3 linked regions of the Homo sapiens genome follow. The protein of the gene in region 3 purifies or fractionates together with the protein of the main gene of each other region. This does not show direct contact. Each region holds a gene or a part of one and is shown on either strand. Other genes may lie near its edges.

The links. The genes of interacting proteins can lie anywhere in the genome.
Region 1: the proteins of AP3B2 (region 3) and AP3M1 purify together in Homo sapiens (co-immunoprecipitation; 4 studies listed by BioGRID and IntAct, with this or other methods). This does not show direct contact.
Region 2: the proteins of AP3B2 (region 3) and AP3S1 purify together in Homo sapiens (affinity purification with mass spectrometry; 3 studies listed by BioGRID and IntAct, with this or other methods). This does not show direct contact.

Annotation. Positions count from the first base shown.
Region 1 is NC_000010.11:74,140,801-74,147,828, reverse strand, and holds part of AP3M1 (AP-3 complex subunit mu-1), read left to right. Parts: intron 1-7,028. UniProt on the Homo sapiens protein: Part of the AP-3 complex, an adaptor-related complex which is not clathrin-associated. The complex is associated with the Golgi region as well as more peripheral structures.
Region 2 is NC_000005.10:115,844,935-115,851,962, forward strand, and holds part of AP3S1 (AP-3 complex subunit sigma-1), read left to right. Parts: intron 1-7,028. UniProt on the Homo sapiens protein: Part of the AP-3 complex, an adaptor-related complex which is not clathrin-associated. The complex is associated with the Golgi region as well as more peripheral structures.
Region 3 is NC_000015.10:82,699,853-82,706,880, reverse strand, and holds part of AP3B2 (AP-3 complex subunit beta-2), read left to right. Parts: intron 1-7,028.

The DNA.
Region 1 (7,028 bases), on a different chromosome or scaffold from region 3:
CAGGGTTTCGCCATGTTGGCCAGGCTGGTCTCGAACTCCTGACCTCGTGATCTGCCCGCCTCAGCCTCCCAAAGTGCTGGGATTACAGGTGTGAGCCACCGCACCCAGCCCACCAAAACTACCTTTACCAAGATCACCAGTGTCCTCTGTGTGTTAAATCATGCATTCTCAAAGCAGATAAAAACTGCTTCTTGTGAGGTGAAAAAAATATAATACTCTTTTTATGTGTAAAGCACAAATACAATACATAAACAGAGAATATTCTGTGGTATTAAAATTTTATGGTGATATTAATTAGCTTCATTTAATTATTCCACATTTCATAAATCATAACATCTGGTACCCCTAAATATATACAACTATAATTTGTCAATTTACAGTTGAAAAAGAAAGAATAATAAAAAGTTTTATGGGTGAGGAATTTGATTGGCAGGGTGGTGAGAAGATGGAGTCTAAAAGGGCTCCTTAGCAGGCATTAAGGAAAAGAAAGTTTAAAAAACACTCTTAAATCAACAGACATTTTCAATTCTTTTTTGTTGTTGTTGAGATGGAGTCTCGCTCTGTCATCCAGGCTAGAGTGCAGTGGCGCCATCTCGGCTCACTGCAGCCTCCACCTCCCGGGTTCAAGCGATTCTCCTGCCTCAGCCTCCAGAGCAGCCGGGATTACAGGCACCCACCACCACACCCAGCTAATTTGTTGGTATTTTTAGTGGAGATGGGATTTCACCATGTTGGCCAGGCTGGTCTCGAACTCCCGAGCTCAGGTGATACTCCCACTTTGGCCTCCCAAAGTGCTGGGATTATAGGTGTGAGCACCACGCCCAGCTGACATTTTCAATTCTCGTAGCTTAACCTCTTTGTGCCATGTAACAGTATTTACCACTCCATTCTTCTGGAAATACACTAATAAGCTATAGTTACTAAAAACCACCCTGTTTTTTTTTTTTTCTTAGGACTCTTCAGTCACATCTTGGTCATTCTTTAGGTCCACTTCCTTGACCCACCTCCTACTCAAATGTTGGAGTTCCTGCCATAAGCTCTCTTCATACTATGCACATTCTTTCTTTTGTTTCAATTCTCCTTTTGATTAATTCCCATTAACAAAAAATCCTGATTACTTACAATTCTGATTCCAATCTGGCTTCTCTAAAGCACCAGAAGGGTATATATAATAGTTTTTTGAATATATTTATTTGGGTCAGATGTATCCAGAATTGGTCAAATTACACAGGACCAGGCCAAGTGACACATCTCTCTCATCTCCACACACCCCCTCCTCCAAGCCTAAATGTTTTTTAGCACAAAACCTAAATGTTTCTCTTATCTTTTCACTGTACCCCATCCTCATAGTCAAGACTCTAGACCAGGCCATCACCACTCATCTCCCAACTGGTGTCACAGTGTTCAGTTACCGATTATCCAGTTTCCGCAGTGTAATTAGTATGATCTTTCTAAAAATGTAAATCGGATTGCATGATTAATTAAAAAAATTATAAAATGACTTTACATTGCACTAAGAATAAAGTCCAAACTCCTTAACAAGTTTAGCATGCTCCATGAACCAATCAGTCTCTGCTTACCTCCTTGTCCAGTTTCATCTCCCCTCTTCCCTCCACCTTCCATATTTGCTAAATTTATACTGGATTTATTTGTCTTGTGTTCTCTCTCACCTCTAAGCCTTGTAGATTCCCACAGCACACTATATTTCCTGTATCATCGTAGGAATTACATCTTAACTGTATTAAGTTGTCTTCTCTGCTCATCTCTAAATGCTGTGAGTATAGGAACTCTAATTTTGTTTGTTCTTATATACCCAGTGCCTCAAAACTCTGTGTTGAATGAATATGTGGTCAAGATATTGGCTGAGAATCAGAAGAGTAGATGCTTTTCTGGTCTCATTCTCTCAAGTTCAGTATAGGCCCTTCTGTGCCTCCATCATATTATATATAGAAGGAATACATTTTTGTTTTTAGACACTGTCTTCCAAGAATATTTTGACTATTGTAAATGCATTGCTTGTGAATTACCCAGGATGATTATAAAATGTTTAGTAAAAAGGATTTATGATGTATTTAAGCTGCAGTCAAAGCTCTGGTGGGTCTGCCTCTGAACACAGTTTCTTCTAGTGGCTTTTAAATAAGCTGGGAGAATTCTGTTTTATGACTCAAAAGCCACTAGGAACAAAAAGATGGTTGTGGTAATAATGAGTGTGTAGTTTTCTCAGAAAGTTTATGAAAATAATAATTAAAAAAATAACTGCAGCTACCAAAAGGACGATAAATAAAGAAACAGGCTAATTTACACTGCAACATGGTATTATTTAATTGTTATATGCATTAGACCTTGGTCATAATATGGATAGAAGAAGTAAGCTCTCTTTTCCTATTATAGAAGGTTAAGATGGGTTTTAAAGCTAAGCACAGTCGAGAACTTACAAGTGTTATGCTTTCATCTCAGCACTAAGGATAACAACAATAAATCTAGGAGGCTGGTTTAACTTTCTGTATTCTGAGACCTGAACTACTGCCAATAAAAACAACTTCGGTGGAAACTTTCCTGGAAAGAATTTTTCACCAGCTTAAGAGGATGAGTAGAGATCTGGCCCTAAAATAAAGTAACTACAAAATCACTTACTTTCAAAACAAGCAACTCTTTCAGAGTGTATTGTGGCAAAGGAGCACTATAAATCCTTGTGAACTATATTTTCGATAGGATGAATGATTTTAGATAACCTGTGTCGGTGCTTTTAAATATAACTTCCACTCTAAATAATTTATTAAACTTCCTCAGCATAACAACTAGAATGTCTTTTGCCTCCTAACTAAACAAGAAATGTCTTTTACCTCCTCCTCTTAAATCATAAGCTAGGCTGGGTGCAGTGGCTCATGCCTGTAATCTCAGCACTTTGGGAGGCTGAGGCGGGCGGATCACGAGGTCAGGAGTTCGAGACCAGCCTGGCCAACATGGTGAAACCCCATCTCTACTAAAAATACAAAAAATTAGCTGGGCATGGTGGCGCATGCCTGTAATCCTAGCTACTCGGGAGGCTGAGGCAGGAGAATCGCTTGAACCCAGCAGGCGGAGGTTGTGGTAAGAGGAAATCGTGCCATTGCACTCCAGCCTGGGCAATAGAGCAAGACTCCGTCTCAAAAAAAAAAAAAAATCATAAGCTAAAGCAGCACATTCATGCACTGTTCAATATATTAACTACTAACCATATATGGTTATTTAAATTTAAATTAATTAAAATTAAAACTTCAGGCTAGGCTTGGTGGCTCACACCTGTAATCCCAGAACTTTGGGAGATCAAGGTGGGAAGATCACTTGAGCCCAGGAGTCCAGGATCAGCCTGGGCAATATAGGCAGACTTTGTCTCTACAAAACAAAAATTTGAAACTCAGCTGTGTGTGGTGATGCACGCCTGTAAGCCCAGCTACTCAGGAGACTGAAGTGGGAGGATCGCTTGGGCTCTGGAGGTGGGCGTTGGAGTGAGCCAAGATGACGCAGCTGCACTCCAGCCTGGGCAACAGAGCGAGACCCTATCTCAAAAAAAAAATAAAAATAAAAAAGCCGGGCATGGTGGCTCACGCCTGTAATCCCAGCACTTTGGGAGGCCGAGGCGGGTGGATCATGAGGTCCGGAGATCGAGACCATCCTGGCTAACATGGTGAAACCCCATCTCTACTAAAAATACAAAAAATTAGCCAGGCGTGGTGGCGGGCTCCTGTAGTCCCAGCTACTCGGGAGGCTGAGGCAGGAGAATGGTGTGAACCTGGGAGGCGGAGCTTGCAGTGAGCAGAGATCACGCCATTGCGCTCCTGTCTGGGAGACAGAGCAAGACTCCGTCTCAAAAAAAAATTAATTAAAATTTCAAAAAAATTAAAACTTCAGTATTGGGTACATTAGCCACATTTCAAGTGCTCAATAGCCATGGGTGTAGTGGCTACCATATTAGCACAGATAAAGGACATTTCCATCATTGCAGAAAGCCCTGTTGGACAGTGCTGTATTAGAACGTGTTCCTAATAATTAGTCTCTACAAGGCAGATAAGAGCAGGAGCTCAGAATTCAGCTGGATTTAGGTTTGAATCCTAGCTTACTGCGTGATCTTAGGTAATTGACCTAACTTTTCTGAGATGACATTGTCTTATCTGTAAAATGGGGATAATAGTAGTATTTATGGTGTAGCATTGTGAAAATAAGATGAGATAAAGTGTCTAGCATAGTGTCTGGCCCATAATAAGTACTCAATACATTTTAGATAGTATTAATTCATTTATTATTCATTATCTTTAATGAATAAAACACTTTGAATGGGGACTGAGTACAGTAGCTTCACTTTGGGAGGCGAAGGCAGGCGGATCACTTGAGGCCAACATGGTGAAACCCCATTTCTACTAAAAACAGAAAAACTAGCTGGGCATGGTGGTGCACACCTGTAATCCCAGCTACTGAGGAGGCTGAGGCACGAGAATTGCTTGCCCATGGGAGACGGAGGTTGCAGTCAGCAGAGATCACACCACTGCACTCCAGCCTGGGTGACAGTGGGAGACTCTGCTCAAACAAACAAACAAGCTTTGTTCCCAAGTAGCTGGGATTACAGGCGCACGCCACCATGCCCGGCTAATTTTTGTATTTTTAGTAGAGACAGGGTTTTGCCATGCTGGCCAGGATGGCCTTGAACTCCTGACCTCAGGTAATCCACCAGTCTTGGCCTCCCAAAGTGCTGGGATTACAGGCGTGAGCCACTGTGCCTGGCCAAAAATAACCACATTGAATGGGGCCAAAAGATTAATTTTTGCAAAGAATGCTGTGTTCCATATGTGACTCACCTGAAGTGCCCAAATCTGAGTCTGCTTGTGGATTACAGTGCTCCACTTGAAGTCATACATTATATATTTCAGATGCTGATTTTCTTCCAAGAAAAAGGTGTAATAATAAAAATTTAGTTGCAGATCTTATGGTTGGATATTCCTGTTTCATTTAAAAAATGAAAATGAAAAGTTTATCAGCTAAAGATTATAGTTAAAATCAGCAGGTTCTATATAGCAAGTCTAAGTATTCTAATGGCACTTATATTAATACCCAGACAGAAATATAAGACACAAAGCAAGCCTACTAAGCAAAGCATCTGACTAGATAAAGTAGAAAAATTTGGCAGGTTCCAACCCTGAGGTGTCAGAGTTTATTGCTAATAACTCAAGTTGATTTCTTGGCTAAACAGAGGGCTTTAAACAAAGAAATTTTTTGGTTCTAATTAAACAGGAACCCTAAACTGTTAACAGTATTCATACTTTATTAATACAATAATTACTAAAACATATCTTAGTAACTAGTATTATTGATAACTACTGAACATGTGTCGAATGGGAAGAGGAGATCATCACCACATATTCTTTAAATGTCAGCCGCTTTCATAAAAGAAAGGGTTGATGTTGTTTTCTGTCAACAGAATCAAATGAATCAATTCTGGAAAGTCTTCCTTTCCTCTTTGGAATTTATCTTCATTCATAGAAACTGTATTCATAGGTCTTAAATTCTTTCTTCTTAGACTATAGTACTATTACTTGGAATGATTGAGCCACTAGACTAAACACCTGATACTGGTGCTTATACACGTAAAAGATAGGAACAAGGTAAGATAATTAGACATTTTTCCATTGTCCCCCATATTGCAGGGACAATAAACTTCTTATAGGAAGCATAACTAACACTCAGAAAGTATGCAAATCACAATGTAAAGCCTAATGAGTTATCATAGAAGGAACACAGCTTGTAAACATCATGCAGGTCAAGAAATAAAACATTGGCCAGGTGCGGTGTCTCACTCCTGTAATCCTAGCACTTTGGGAGGCTGAGGCAGGCGGATCACGAGGTCAGGAGTTCAAGACCAGCCTGGCCAACATAGTGAAACCTCGTCTCTATTAAAAATACAAAAAAAAAAAAAAACTAGCCAGGTGTGGCGGTGTGTGCCTGTAATCCCAGCTACTAGGGAGGCTGAGGCAGGAGAATCTCGTGAACTTGGGAGGCAGAGGTTTCAGTGAGCCGAGATAACACCATTGCACTCCAGCCTGGGCGACAGTGTAAGACTCCATCTCAAAAAAAAAAAAAAAAGGAAAATAAAAAAGAAATAAAACATTACCAGCACTCTAGGAGATCATCCCCATGGCCCTCCACTCTCCATAAAGGAAACCATTTGATTTAACGTAGATTAGTTTTGCCTGTTCTACAACTTCATATAAATGGAATCATACTGTGTATATTCTTTTGCATCTGGCTTCATTTATTCAACATCGTATTTGTAAGATTCGTTTGTATGTATATATTCTTTGAGTAAATGTCTTTTCAAATCCTTTGCCCATTTTTTAATTGGCTTGTTTATTTATTTATTTTTTATGTTTTAGAGGCAAGGTCTCCCTCTGTCACCCAGGCTAGGGTGCAGTGGTGGGATCATAGTTGACTGCAGCCTCAAACTCCTGGACTCAGGCAATCCTCCCACCTCAGCCTCCCAAGTAGCAGGGACTACAGGTATGAGCCACTATGCCTGGCTAGTTTTTAAATTTTTTTATAGAGACGGGGTCTCAAACTCCTGGGCTCAAGCAATCCTCCCTCCTCAGCCTCCCAGAGTGCTAGGATTACAGTTGTGAGTCACCACACCTGGCCCTTCTTATTATTGAGTAAAAGTTCTTTATATTTTCCGGATAGGGGTCCCTTTAAGATATATGGTTTCAAATATTTACTATCATTTTGTGAATTTTTGCTTTCTTGATAATGTCCTTTGAAGCACTAAGTTTTAAATTTGATGGACTCTGGGTTATCTATTTTTTATTTTTCTTGTCTGTACTTTTGGTATCGTATCTTAAAAAACATTGTCTAATCCAGAGTCAAAATCTATGCATATTTTTTCTAAGAGTTTTATCATTTTGGCTTTTCCAATTAGGTCTTTGATACATTTTGTGTTGCTTTTTGTATCCAATTTCATTCTTTTGTATGTGGAAATCCAGTTGTTCCAGTACCATTTGTTGAAA
Region 2 (7,028 bases), on a different chromosome or scaffold from region 3:
ACATAGAAAACTCTCTAACTCTTTGCTAAATGCATTTATTTAGAATCTCCTAGCTTGGGATAGAGTTGGGATTAGTTAACTTGCTGAGTTTCCTTCTATCTCTTAAAATGTAGTCCTTCACTAACTAGAGGTTTTAAGAATCTCTGCCTTTAGCATAAAAGTAATGATGGCATATGTGTTACTCAGCTGTTTCTGTTTTAAGGGGTCTCTAAGAAGTATATGTCCAATATGAATAAAAATATTGAGTTTAATTTATTAAACAATATCTAGAGGTGTGACTGAGCTAACAATTCCATATACTGGCAGGATGCTGAGGTTTGAGTCCAACAGTAATCGTTTAACACTGAGCAGTTTAAAAAATGTTTAACCATTTGCCAACAAGTTTATCCTACTGCACTTCATTTTCATTCCTCATTTATCTCCCTCAAATATAACAACTTACATATTCATCTCTGCCCTTTAACAGTGCACATTTCCATTTCATGCTGTAATAGATTGTTAGATTCGATTGTGGCTCCAAGCTGTTATATGTGAGAAATAGGAAGTTGCGCACCTGTTTTGCTAAACAGAAGTTTTGGTTCATTCTGCTAGAGTCAGACATTACGAATTCAAGTGTGGGCTGGGTGCCATGGCTCATGCCTGTAATCTCAGCACTTTGGGAGGCCAAGGCAGGCGGATCACCTGAGGTCAAGAGTTCAAGACCAGTGTGGCCAACATGGTGAAACCCCATCTCTACTAAAAATACAAAAATTAGCCAGGCATGGTAGCGCACGCCTATAAGTGCAGCTACTCGCTCGAGGCTGAGATAGGAGAATTGCTTGAACCTGGGGAGGTGGAGAATGCAGTGAGCTGAGATCGTGCCACTGCATTCCAGCCTGGGTGACAGAGTGAGACTCCATCTCAAAAAAAAAAAAAAAAAAAAAAAAAAAAAAAAAAAAAATTCAAGTCTGGACTCAAAATGCATCCCTTTTCGTTTTTGCCTTCTATATCCTTGGTCTATGACTGCACAAATTCAAATGTTTTGCTTGGTTTGTCTTTTTAAGTTGATACTTAGCTTCAGCGACTTGACAACAGTAACCTTTAGTCTTTTAATACTTACCTGACAGTATTTGTGCATTACTGTAAATAACTAATGAGACTTATATTTTATAAACTAAATATATTTTTACATAGCTATCAAACAAAAAAATCCCTTCGGTTGTGATTCCATAGTGTATCCTCTGGTGAATTACTTTTAAAAAATTTTTCTTTTTTTATAGAGAAAAGGTCTCACTATGTTGCTCAGGCTGGTCTTAACCTCCTGGCCTCAAACACTCCTCCAGCTTTGGCTTCCCAAAGTGCTGGGATGACAGATCTGAGCCACCATGCCTGGCCTGTGAATTACTTTTATAAAGTGGAAATGTCTTTCTTTTGTGTGAATTATCTTAGTTGTTTCTTCAGATATAAAATACTGTGTGTATGTATGCATGTGTGTGTACACACCACACACATATTAAGTGCAAGCAGGAAAAATTTCAAATTAACCTATATGAGTTGCCTCAATTTTTTTAATAAACTGTATTTAATTAAACTGTTAACCAAATGCAAGCCTTAGGAGGAACTCTAAGATTCTTCTTTCTCGTTTTTTTTTTTTTTTTTAAATCTTAACATAAAAATACAAAGTGTTGAAAGTATAGATAACTTCTTTTTTCTTTTAAAAATATCCCTTAAAAAGATCCATCCATGTTCACTCATGTCTTTTTTTAGTGACTATTAAGACGTTGTGGCAGATGGGATAATTAAACTTATGTCTGTGATCAAGATAGAATTATCAACACTCCTGAGTATGAGGGTGTTAACACATACTAACACACGGCATTTCAGCTTTTTGTTAAGAAGAAAATTCCATACGATTTGGTTTCCTTCCATATTAGTTATAATGCGTTTGTCTGCATAAATTGGGTTTTATGTAGCCTGACTCAAGTGCTTGGAAAGAACTATGTTAGGTACATTATAGGAAGTGCAGAGTAGTAGACCGATTCCAAAAGTATTTGATTCAGCAAATCAATGACTTTATTGTAGATCCAATTTCTTTCTCTTTCTCTGCTTTACTCATCACAAAATTACTATTATCCAAAGGCTGTTTTTCTCCTTTGGTAATCAGTTCAATTCAGAAAGAGACAACCATCTGTTTCTGCAGTCCTGGACTGTGTCTTTCCCTTCATTCTGGTTAGACCCACCCAAGACCAATATTCTTACCCTAATCAACATCCAACTTTGGATTGGAGCTGAAGATGAGAGTGAAAACGGGAATAAAATGGATATTCTGTTGGAAAGATGAAAGAAAGGAGTGGATGGTGGGTAGGCAAACAAGGGTCTGCTATTTCTTCTTCTAAACTTTTAAAAAAATATTTATTTTTATGGCCGGGTACAGTGGCTCATGCCTGTAATCCCAGCACGTTGGGAGGCCTAGATGGGAGGATTGTTTGAGCCCAGGAGTTCAAGACAAGCCTGGGCAACGTGGCAAAACCCTGTCTCTATGCCAAAAATACAAAAATTAGTGAGTCATGTTAGCACACACCTATAGTCTTAGCTGCTTAGGTGGCTGAGGTGAGAGGATCACTGAGCTCCGGAGATCAAGGCTGCAATGAGCTGAGATTGCGCCATTGCGCTCCAGCCTGGGTGACAGAGGAGACCCTGTCTCAACAAATTTAAAAAAATATATGTTTTTATTGAGGTATAGATGACAAAAAAAAATTACATATATTTACCGTGTACATGTTATTTTTGTATATGTATATATTGTGAAATGGGTAAATCAAGCTAACTAACATGTCTATCACCACTATTCCCTCTTTATTAGCTTTTAATATATATTAGTTTTCTGAAATTTTAGATTGCTTCTGAGGTTGTTAATATCAGGAATAGTTCCTTGTAATATGCAATACTGAACCTGTGTCACAATAGATCTTAATTTCAGGTTTTCCTTATATCAAAGTATCCTCGAAAAACCCAAATGCTTATACGTTCACAGTTTTTATGTGGAGTATGCTGGAAAACTTGCTTTTTAAAAATTAAGACTAAACCTTTTGAATATTTAATTGTAAAGGAGGAAATAAAGTCTTCAAAGTTAAAATGATTTTTGGTTATGAGGTAAGTGTTATAAATAGGACAATGTTATAGGTCATTTCATGGCTTTTCTAAAAGAAGGCCTTACGTGACGTACCTATATTATATTCTTTAGCAAAGTTGTTTTCAATTTTAAGTAAGTTTCTTTTTTTGTGACTGTGGAAAATTAAATATTAAGGCCACTAAGGTCATTCTTGATTTTACCACACACAGATAATTATTAACACTTAGTGTATTTCCCCCCGGTCTTTATTTTTCTTTTCAGAATGTCCCAGTGAATAGGATATACCTTTTAGACATTAATAACACAAATAAATGCTTTGAAGCTGATGATGGATTTATTAAACATTGTGGCTTTAAGATAACTGAATATGTTAATGTTCAGCCACTCTCTTGTTAAAATTTAAAAAAGACAGTATATGGTAATAGCACATTAATAATTTGCATGTCCTAAGAAATGTGTATATATCTTTCTTTTGTATAAAATTAAACTTACCTGTGTAACCTGAGGTTATCAGTGTCCTTGTCTTTTTCGTTCTGAAAGGAAATCTTTGCTAATTTTTGTTTGAAAGTCAAGAGTTCATTCTTACCTTTAGCACTTAGTCTTTTTTGTACCTGTGGATTATGGATTTTGTCACTGCTGTTTTATAATTCAAGGTGATTCTGAGTTGTTACCATCTAGAGGGCCCAGTCCCCTTCCAACTTCTTGTTGTATAAAACTGTCACATTAGGCTAACTAAACACATTTTTTCCTCACCCATCTGCCTTTTCAGCTTTCCTCTCATCAAATCCTTTGAAGTACAATATAGTTAAAACAGCTTTCTTTGCTGAAGAATCAAGCAACTCTTAGAAGGATATTGAAGTGAATAAAGGACAATTCTAGCTAATAACTGTTTTCTTAAGATTCCAAGTGGAGGAAGCCCTTGTAGAGTTAGGCCTCTGACTAGGCCTTCTAGAGATAGGCCTCTGGGAAGAGGGGTGGTCTTTCTGGATACTTTCTGATCTGTCTCTCCATTACACTCTTTCTCTTTTCCTGTCCATATTCTTTCAAGTATTTATTTGTTGTTTGTATGGCCCTATTCTAAGCACTAGTAATACAGTGATAAGTAAGACGGATGTCACCCTTGCCCTGTGGGTTTACATTCTGGTGATAGGAGATAGGCAGTAAATTATTTAAGATTGTAATTAGTCTGAAGACAAATGAAACAGTATAAGGGAATAAAGCTTGATGGAGGAAAGCCTATATTAGATAGGGTCATTGGGAATACCTCTTTGACGACCTGACATTTGAGAGGAAAACTGAATGAGATAAGAGAGGAAGAATATGAAAACAGTAAAGAAAAGAATGTTTCAGGCAGAAAGAAGTGCAGTGTCCCTCAAATGGGACCACACTTGATGTGTTCAGGAATAGCAAGAAGGCAAGCTGAGAAATCACGGGGAAGAGAGGCAGGAGATAAAGCTAAAGAGAACGATGGGGACAGATCATGCCTGTATGCCACACCATGCCCCTTCTTGACATAATTCAGTTTGATGACATCATGCCCAGCATGTTCTCCACAAGAGGAGATACTCCTCTTTGAATCACACTTGCATTTTGCCATTTAAACAGTGCCTCTGCAGAAGGGGCAGTGAGGCTCTCCTCTGATTGGTTACTTTCTTCTCTACCCAGTTATTGTTAGGCTCTGTAAAGAAGGTGTTGCTAGGCCAGTGAATGAAGGTAAAAGTCAGTGCATCAAAACCAGGCATGGTGTGTGCCTATAGTCCCAGCTACTTGGGAGGGTAAGGTGGGAGGATTGCCTGAGCCCAGGAGTTGAGGCTATGCTAGGCAACCATAGCAGGGCCCCTGTCTTCTAAAAAAAAAACAAAAACAAAGGAAACAAAAAACATGAGTGCTCCAGTTCTGTATAGCCTCTCTATCAATGAGACCTGTGATCAAGCTTTCGTAAGTCACCTGTGAAGTAACAGAACTCAAGAAGAAAACCATTTTTTTCTTAGCTTATTGTCTTAATTATATGTGAATAGAGTTTATGTGAAGCCCACTAGACCCACCTCTATTGTACTGAAAAGCATTTACATTTTTCCACTCTTGCAAGCCTGGTGTAATTACAAGAATCACTTGCTGTCAGTCACAGTTCTCTTTGTTACTCAGGAGGAAAGGGCTATCTTTTAATATTCCAGACCCACTGAATTGTTTTGATTACCTTGTGCTTACTGAGGAAGAGTACTAGTTGATTCTACCGCATACATATCCTATTTCCTGTCATTAATATATCTTAGTGTGACATGAAAGGGTTATAAAATAAATTTTATTGTAGTAAAAAATATATAACAAAATTTATCATTTTAACAGTTGCAAGTGTACAGTTTTGTGGCATGAAGTATATTCACATTGTTGTGTCACCATCACCACCCATCCATCTGTAGAACTTAGTCTTTCCCAACAGAAACTTCTTACACATTAAACACTAACTTCCTATTCTCCCCTTCTCCTAGTACCTGGCAAACACCATTCTACTTTGTGTCTCTATGAATTTGACTGCTCTAAAAACCTCATATAGGAGGAATCATAGAATTTTTGTGTTTTGGAAACTGGCTTTTCTTTTAGCACGTCTTCGAAGTTCACTCATGTTATGTAGCATGTATCAAAATTTCCGTAATTTTTAAGGCGGAATAATATTTCATTGTATGTGTGTACATACCATCGACCTAAAAGGAAGAGGCTGAAGCACAAAATAGGATTCAAAGAGTTTACTTGAGCCAAAATGAGAACAGTTGCCTGGGAGACTCAGACTCAAGTATCCTTGGATATGAGCTCCCTTTGGCCATTGTTACAAGCAGGTTTGTGAAGGCATTAAATAAAGGGGACATGGAGTGGGCTGATACTAAGTTGTCTGTCAGGAATTCTCACTAGTTTATAGAAATAACTTTGGTTAATGATTGACTAACATTGTTGAGATGCAGGGAGTAGTTTATAGTGTGTGGTGCAGCATTATTAGGTTATTTTCTAGTTACTTGTGGCAGTATAAAGCAGTTTCAATAGATAAATATTTCTCATAGCTCAAAGGAGAGAAGTAGGATGTGATTGCTGTCACATTTTAATGCCTTTCTGGGCCAGATCATTTAAAAGGACTTGCATTCCTCAGATAAAAGTTTCTTTCTTGATGCCGTATTTTGTTTATCCGTTTGTCAGTGGAAACTTGGGTTGCTTCCATCCTTTGGCTATTATGAATAATGCTGTGAACATAGATGTACTGATATCTGTTTGAGTGCCTGCTTTTACTTTTTATAGGTACATACCCAGAAGTGGAATTGTTAGATTATATGGTAATTTTATGTTTTGCTTTTTTGTGGGGAAGCGGCACATCATTTTCCACAGTGGCTGTACCATTTTACATTCCCACCAGCAATGCACAAAGGTTCTAGTTTCTCTACATCCACGTTATTTTTTGTTTTTTGAAAATAGCCATCTTAATGTTTATGAAGTGGTGCCTCATTATGGTTTTGATTTGCATTTCTTTAGTGACTAGTGCTGTTGTGGGTCTGTTTGTGTGTTTATTGACCATTTGTATGTCTTTGGAAAAATATCTATTTGAGTCTTTTGCCCATTTTAATATTCAGTTGTTTGTTTTTGTTGTTAAGTTGTAGGAGTTTTAAAAATATATTCTAGATATCAGTCTCCTGTTGTATATATGATTTGCAAATATTTTCTCTGATTCTGTGGTTGCCTTTTTACTCTGTTGATAGTGTCCTTTGATACACACAACTGTTTAATGAGATTTAACTTACGTTTTTGTTGTTGTTGTTGTTGTTGTTGCTGGTGCTTGCTTTTGGTATCATACCCAGAAAATATTTTTTTAATTACTATATAATAGTACATTGTATAGTATACTATAATTTAACCAATCAATGTGGACTTCAAT
Region 3 (7,028 bases):
GAACAATCCCTGAGGAGTAGTAGAATAGCAGATGGAACACTGAGAAGTGATTTCCTTGAGGATAGATTTCCACAATGGAAAGGAAATGAGAGGTTCTAAGAGGCAGGCTAGCGGCTTGTAACCTACATGGAAGAGGTTATGAAATGACGAAAGAATAGAATGGGCCTGTGAGGCTAGAAGGAGATATTTTCCTTGGTCTGAGAACCATTTGCCTTGTGTGGGAAGAGATTCATAGGTGTAAGTTTCATTGGGGGAGTAGGTAGGAGTGACTGATGAGAAGGAGAAAAACTGGCCATGAGGGACAGAAGTTGGAATGCTAGCTGCTTTTTTAGCTACCTTATCAGCATAAGTGTTGCCCTGAGCGATGGGATCTGATGCCTTTTGATGGCCCTTGCAGTGAATGACTCCAGCTTCCTTTGGAAGTAAAGCGGCCTTGAGAAGAGTTTTTATTAAAGAGGAATTAATGATGGAGGACCCTTGTGTAATGAGGAAAGCTTTTTGCCCATATAACAGCATGGAGGTACAGGATATGGAAGGCATATTTAGAGTCAGTATAAATATTGACACATAGTCCTTTTGCAAGACTGAGGGCTCGAGTTAAGGCAATGAGTTAAGCTTTCTGAGAGGTAGTGGAGGGGGGCAGAAAGTATATGCGTCAGGTGTGAGGAAGAAAATAGATTTTGGAAGTTATGAGAACTGTAGAGAGTGAGTTGAGCATAGTTTGTGATTTTGAGGGCCTCTGAAAGTATTAAAGCAGCGGCAGCCGCTGCACGCAGACATGAGGGCTAGGCCAAAACAGTAAGGTCAAGTTGTTCGGACAGAAAGGCTACAGGGCGTGGTCCCAGCTCTTGTGTAAGAATTCCAACCGCACAGCCCTGCACTTTGGCTGTGTGTGATGAAAAAGGGTTGGGATGAATTAGGGAGACCTAGTGTGAGAGCAGCTTCTACGGCTGTTTTTAAGGAATGGAAAGGAGTGGCAAAAGGATTTAGGATCTGTGGGGTCAGCTAGGTTTGCTTTTGTGAGTTTATATAATGGTTTAGTCAGGATGGTAAAACTAGGTATCCAAAGGTGGAAGTACCTAACCATCCCTTGAAAGGAAAGGAGTTGTTGCTTTGTAGAAGGGATTGGGGTTCGGGAGATTAGCCGGACATGATCAGCAGGGAGAGCACGTGTGTTTTCATGAGAACTATGCCAAGATAGGTAATGGATGAGGAAGAAATTTGGGCTTGACTGAAGTAATGGGGGCTGTCCGTGAAGCCTTGCGGCAGTACAGCCTAGGTAGTTTGCTGAGCCTGATGGGTGTCAGGGACAGTCCAAGTGAAAGCGAAGAGAGGCTGAGATGAAGGGTGCAAATGAATAGTAAAGAAAGCATGTTTGAAATCCAGAAGAGAATGATGGGTTGTGGAGGGGTTGTGGAGGGAGGTATTGAGGAGGAGAGTATATGAGTTTGGCACCACGGGGTGGATAGGCAAAACAATTTGGCTGACAAGGCACAGATCCTGAACTAATTGTAAGACTTGTCTGGTTTTTGAACAGGTAAAATGGGGGAATTGTAAGGAGAGTTTATAGGCTTTAAAAGGCCATGCTGTAACAGGCGAGTGATAACAGGCTTTAATCCTTTTAAAGCCTGCTGGGGGATGGGATATTGACATTGAGCACGGTAAGGGTGATTAGGTTTTAATGGGATGGTAAGGGGTGCATGATCAGTCGCCAAGGAGGGAATAGAGGTGTCCTATACTTGAGGATTAAGGTGGGGAGATACAAGGGGAGGATGTGAAGGAGGCTTTGAACTGGGGGAAAAGGTGGCAATGAGGTGTGGCTGTAGCCTAGGAATAGTCAGGGAAGCAGATAATTTAAAGTGTCTCGGCCTAATAAGGGAACTGCGCAGGTGGGGATAACTGAAAAGGAGTGCATAAAAGAGTATTGTCCAAGTTGGCCTCAGAGTTGGGGAGTTTTGAGAGGTTTAGAAGCCTGGCCATCAATACCCACAACAGTTATGGAGGCAAAGGAAACAGGCCTTTGAAAAGAAGGTAATGTGGAGTTGGTAGCCTCCGTATTGATTAAGAAGGGGACGGACTTACCCTCCACTGTAAGAGTTACCCAAAGCATCTGTGATGGTCCAGGAAGCTTCCAAGGCGATTGGGCAGTGTCAGTCTTCAGCTGCTAAGCCGAGAAGATTTGGGAAGGAGTCAGTCAGGCAGCCTTGGGCCAGAGTTCCAGGGGCTCTGGGAGTGGCTGCCAGGTGAGTTGGACAGTCCGATTTCCAGTGGGGTTCCACACAGATGGGACAAGGCTTAGGAAGAATCCTGGGCTGTGGGCATTCCTTGGCCCAGTGGCCAGATTTCTGGCACTTGAAGCAAGATCCTGATGGAGAAGGTCCTGTAGGAATGCTTGACTGCTGCAGCTTAGGCATTTTGAAGTTCTTGTGTACTGGAGATGTGGCTGGGGTTTCTCTCACAGTGGAGGCAAGGAACTACAACTCAGAAATACATTGCTACTTGGCTGCCTTTACTCTATTATTGTACACCTTGAAGGCGAGGTTAATTAAGTCCTGTTATGGGGTTTGAGGGCCGGAATTTAATTTTTGGAGTTTTATTTAATGTTGGGAGTGGATTGGGTAATAAAATGTATATTGAGAATAAGACTGCCTTTTGACCTTTTAGGGTCTAGGGCTGTAAAGCGTCTCAGGGTTGCTGCCCAACGAGCCATGAACTGGGCTGGGTTTTTATATTTGATGAAAAAGAGCCTAAATACTAACTGATTTGGCAGAGGTCGGATAAAGGAAAAGGAGCGTTAACCTTGACTATGCCTTTAGCTCCAGCCACCTCTTTAAGAGGAAATTGTTGGGCAGGTTGGGGAGGGCTAGTCGCAGAACAAAACTGTAAGCCGGACTGGGTGTGGGGAGAGGAGGTGATAGAAGGATTATAGGGTGGAGGAGCAGAAGCTGAGAAAGAATTGGAGTCTGATTCAGCCTGGTGGGGAGTGACCTGAGGAGCATTCTGGGGATTAGGTGAGAGGTCAGATGGGTCGGTAGAAAAGGAAGATTGGAAGATTGAAAAGACGCAGCGACGCTTGGGGTTGGGACTGAGGGGACAGGCGGGAGGGAAAGAAGGAGGATTTGGGATGAGTCGCATTGGGAACAGAGACTAGGGAGGGACCGATGTGTAAAAGAATGCCTGGACATCAGGCACCTCAGACTGTTTGCCCATTTTACAACAAGAATTATCTAGATCTTGTAGGATGGAAAAATCGAAAGTGCCGTTTTCTGGCTATTTGGAACCATTGTTGAGTTTGTATTGGGGTTAAGCGGCATTGCAAAGAAAATAAGGCATTTAGGTTTTAGGTCAGGTGTGAGTTGAAGAGGTTTTAAGTTCTTGAGAACACAGGCTAAGAGAGAAGAAGGAGGAATGGAGGGTGGAATGTTGCCCACAGTGAAGGAGGCAAGCCCAGAGAAAAGAGAGGGTAGAGACACGGAGAGAAGGGGTGGGGGGTGCTTTGCCCCCCAGGAAAGTGGAGAGAAAAGAGAGGGTAGAGACACAGAGAGAAGGAGTCGGGGGTGCTTGTCCCCCAGGAACGTGGAGAGAAAAGAGAGGGTAGAAACATGGAGAGAAGGGGTGGGGGGTACTTGCCCCCCAAAAAGTGGTGTTTGCCACTAAGGGTGAAAGATCAAGGCAGGCATCCTCGCGGTGATCAGACAACTCTGAAACGTGGGTGAATAATCAAGCAGGCGTCCCCGCAGTGATTAAACACCAAGGGAAGACTGTCTTCCTGAGTCCGTGATCGGCGCCGGAGTTTTGGGTTCACAGATAAAATGCATTTCCTGTCTCTACCAGAAAAGGAAAGGAACCGAAATTAAGAGAAGGGAGAGATTGAAAGATGGCACCAAGATTGAAAGGAGAAAGAGGTTGAGGGATAGTGAGAGAGGTTGGAGAAGAGAGTAAAAAGAGGCCGCTTACCTGATTTAAAATTGGTGAGATGTTCCTCAGGCTGGTTGGTCTGAGGACCCGAGGTCATTAGGTGGATCTTTATCATGAAGCAAAGAGCAGGAGGACAGGGGATTGATCTTCCAAGGGTGGTCCCCCGATCCGAGTCATGGCACCAAATTTCACGCACGTCCATGTGAAGAGACCACCCAACAGGCTTTGTGTGAGCAATAAAGCTTTTTAATCACCTGGTTGCAGGCCGGCTGAGTCTGAAAAAAGAGTCAACGAAAGGAGATAGGGGTGGGGCCATTTTATAGGATTTGGGTAGGTAGTGGACAATTACAGTCAAAGGGGGGTGTTCCTTGGTGGGCAGGGGCGGGGGACACAAGGTGCTCAGTGGGGGAGCTTTTGAGCCAGGATGAGCCAGGAGAAGGAATTTCACAAGGTAATGTCATCAGTTAAGGCAGGAACAGGCCATTTTCACTTCTTTTGTGATTCTTCAATTACTTCAGGCCATCTGGATATATACGTGCAGGTCACAGGGGATATGATGGTTTAGCTTGGGCTCAGAGGCCTGACAAGGATGTTACTCAGGTTACTAGTTCCTGCAACTGGATGGATGATGGTGTTATTCAGTGTAATTGGAAATAAAGATGTTACAAGCAAATTTGTGGAAAATTAATGTTGAGCCCAGCTTTGGACATATTGAGATTGTAAACTCTGAGGGACATATTACCCTATTAGGTAGCTGGATATTACGATTTGGGTTCCAGGAGAGAGATTAGGGAATTATTAACATATGTATGTTAATTAAAGCCACAGAAGTGAAGATAACTCAGGGAGGAGGTATAAAATGAGTTCAGACACTGCACAAGTCTGAACCCTGAAGACACCAACATTAGAAGTGACCAGAGAACAGTGGAAAGTGTTTCAAGGTACCCAAGAGGTGAACTAAAGGCTGAAAGAAAACAATGTAATTTCAAGAAGGAGGGAGTGGTCAGTAGTTTCAATGCCCATTAAGGTCAAATCAAACAAGGAAAAAAATCATGACCATTGGTTGACAAAGAAGAGCTCAATTCCTTTCTACTCTATTCCCCACCTCCTGCCCTGGGAGATAAATTCTGGCAAAGTAAGGAGAACAGGAGCTAGATTATTTCTTTCCCAGCATTCTGTTGTGGATGATTTAAAACATACAGAAAAATGAAATGAATAATACAATGAACACATGTATATCATCCATCTAGATTCAACTGTCATTGACATCGTACCTTATTTGCTTTATCTAACCATCTATTCGTATACTTTTTTTGGTTGAACCATGTTAAGTTGCAGAGATCATGACCCTTCAACCCCACATTCTAAGTCGACATCTAAAGCCAGATTAAAATGAATAAAGGAGCACACAGGTGGTAAGTAGATAAAACAGTGAATGGAAATTTTGCTTTCAAGAAATTTGACTGTAAAAGAGAAAGCTGCTGGAGGAGAACCTCACTCAGTTCAAGGAAGTTTGTCTATTTTGTTATTTTGGGTTTTTTTTTTTGTTTCTTAAAATGTATGACTCCATATTTTTGTTTATTATTAATATTAGGCGGGAGAGCCTAGAGCAAGTTTAACTGCTGATGGGAAGGAGCGATTGGTGGGAGAGAGGCTGAAGGGAAGAAAGGAAGTACAGAACACTGAGTGATGGGAGGGGAGGCTTACTGAGCTGGGTGGGAGGACTAGCCTGGGAGCAGGGAGGACCAACTCTGCCCAGAGGGAAGAGGGCAGGAGGAGAGGAGAGTATAAATGCAGATGGAGACTGGGTACAGTGGCTCATGCCTGTAATCCCAGCACTTTGGGAGGCTGAGGCGGGCAGGTCACTTGAAATCAAGAGTTCAAGACTAACCTGGCCAACATGTCAAAACCCCGTCTCTACTAAAAATACAAAAATTAGCCAGTTGTGGTAACGCATGTCTATAATCCCAGCTACTCAGGAGGCTGAGGCAGGAGAATCACATGAACCCGGGAGGTGGAGATTACAGTGAGCCGAGATGGCACCACTGCACTCCAGCCTGGGCAACGGAGTGAGACTCCATCTCTAAATAAATAAATAAGTAAATAAATGCAGATGGATGGGAGTCTGGGGCAGGGGGCTGCAGGGGATTTCATCTAAAGACTTTCCCTTTTTCGGGAACCAGGTGGTGAAGCCATAAGGGCAAGGCTGGGAATGGGGACTTGAGGGTCAAAGGGGTTTCAAATACAATGAAGAAAGCCAACCAGGCCAGGCGCGGTGGCTCACGCCTGTAATCCTAGCACTTTGGGAGGCTGAGGCAGGCATATCACCTAAGGTTGGGAGTTTGAGACCAGCCTGACCAACATGGAGAAACCCCGTCTCTACTAAAAATACAAAAATTAGCCAGGTGTGGTGGTGTATGCCTGTAATCCCAGCTACTTGGGAGGCTGAGGCAGGAGAATTGCTTGAACCCAGGAGACGGAGGTTGCAGTGAGCCGAGATCACGCCATTACACTCCAGCCTGGGCAATAAGAGTGAAACTCCATCTGAAAAAAAAAAAAAAAAAAGCCACCCACCACTGGCAGGCCAGTGGCATTGGAGACCAGTGGGACAAGAGGGCCAAGGATGTGAGAGCAGTTGGAGGGATAGACACAGGGGTTGCGGGGGAGGGTGCTAGGAGGAAGTAGAGATAAGAGAAGGTTGATGGGAAGGAATAAATCAAGTATTGGCTCTGGAAAGGCAGGTGAGGATTAAGATGCCTAGGGTCAGTGAGAAGAGGGTATATGAGATTTCTCAGGAGGCTGCAGTCTAATTGTGGCAGTGGGATTGGAGCTGAAGAGGGCATCTCTCACCTCTCTATCAACTCCACTGACCATCTAGTCCCTTGCCCAGAGACTAGGGGTAGGCTTGGTCTCCTGTCCCTGCCCTTCTTTCCCTCTAGAGGCCTTGTCTCTGAGCAGTGAAGAGGAAACCGGAGCATCCCTCCCTGCCAGTGTCCGGTTACCAAGTTTTGGGGGCGGGCCATCTGGTGACTGTGACAGGAGCCCCAGCGCCCTGGCCAGCTCAGTCCATTCCTGGAGAAGAACCTGATGCAGCGATTCCTGCAGCTCCC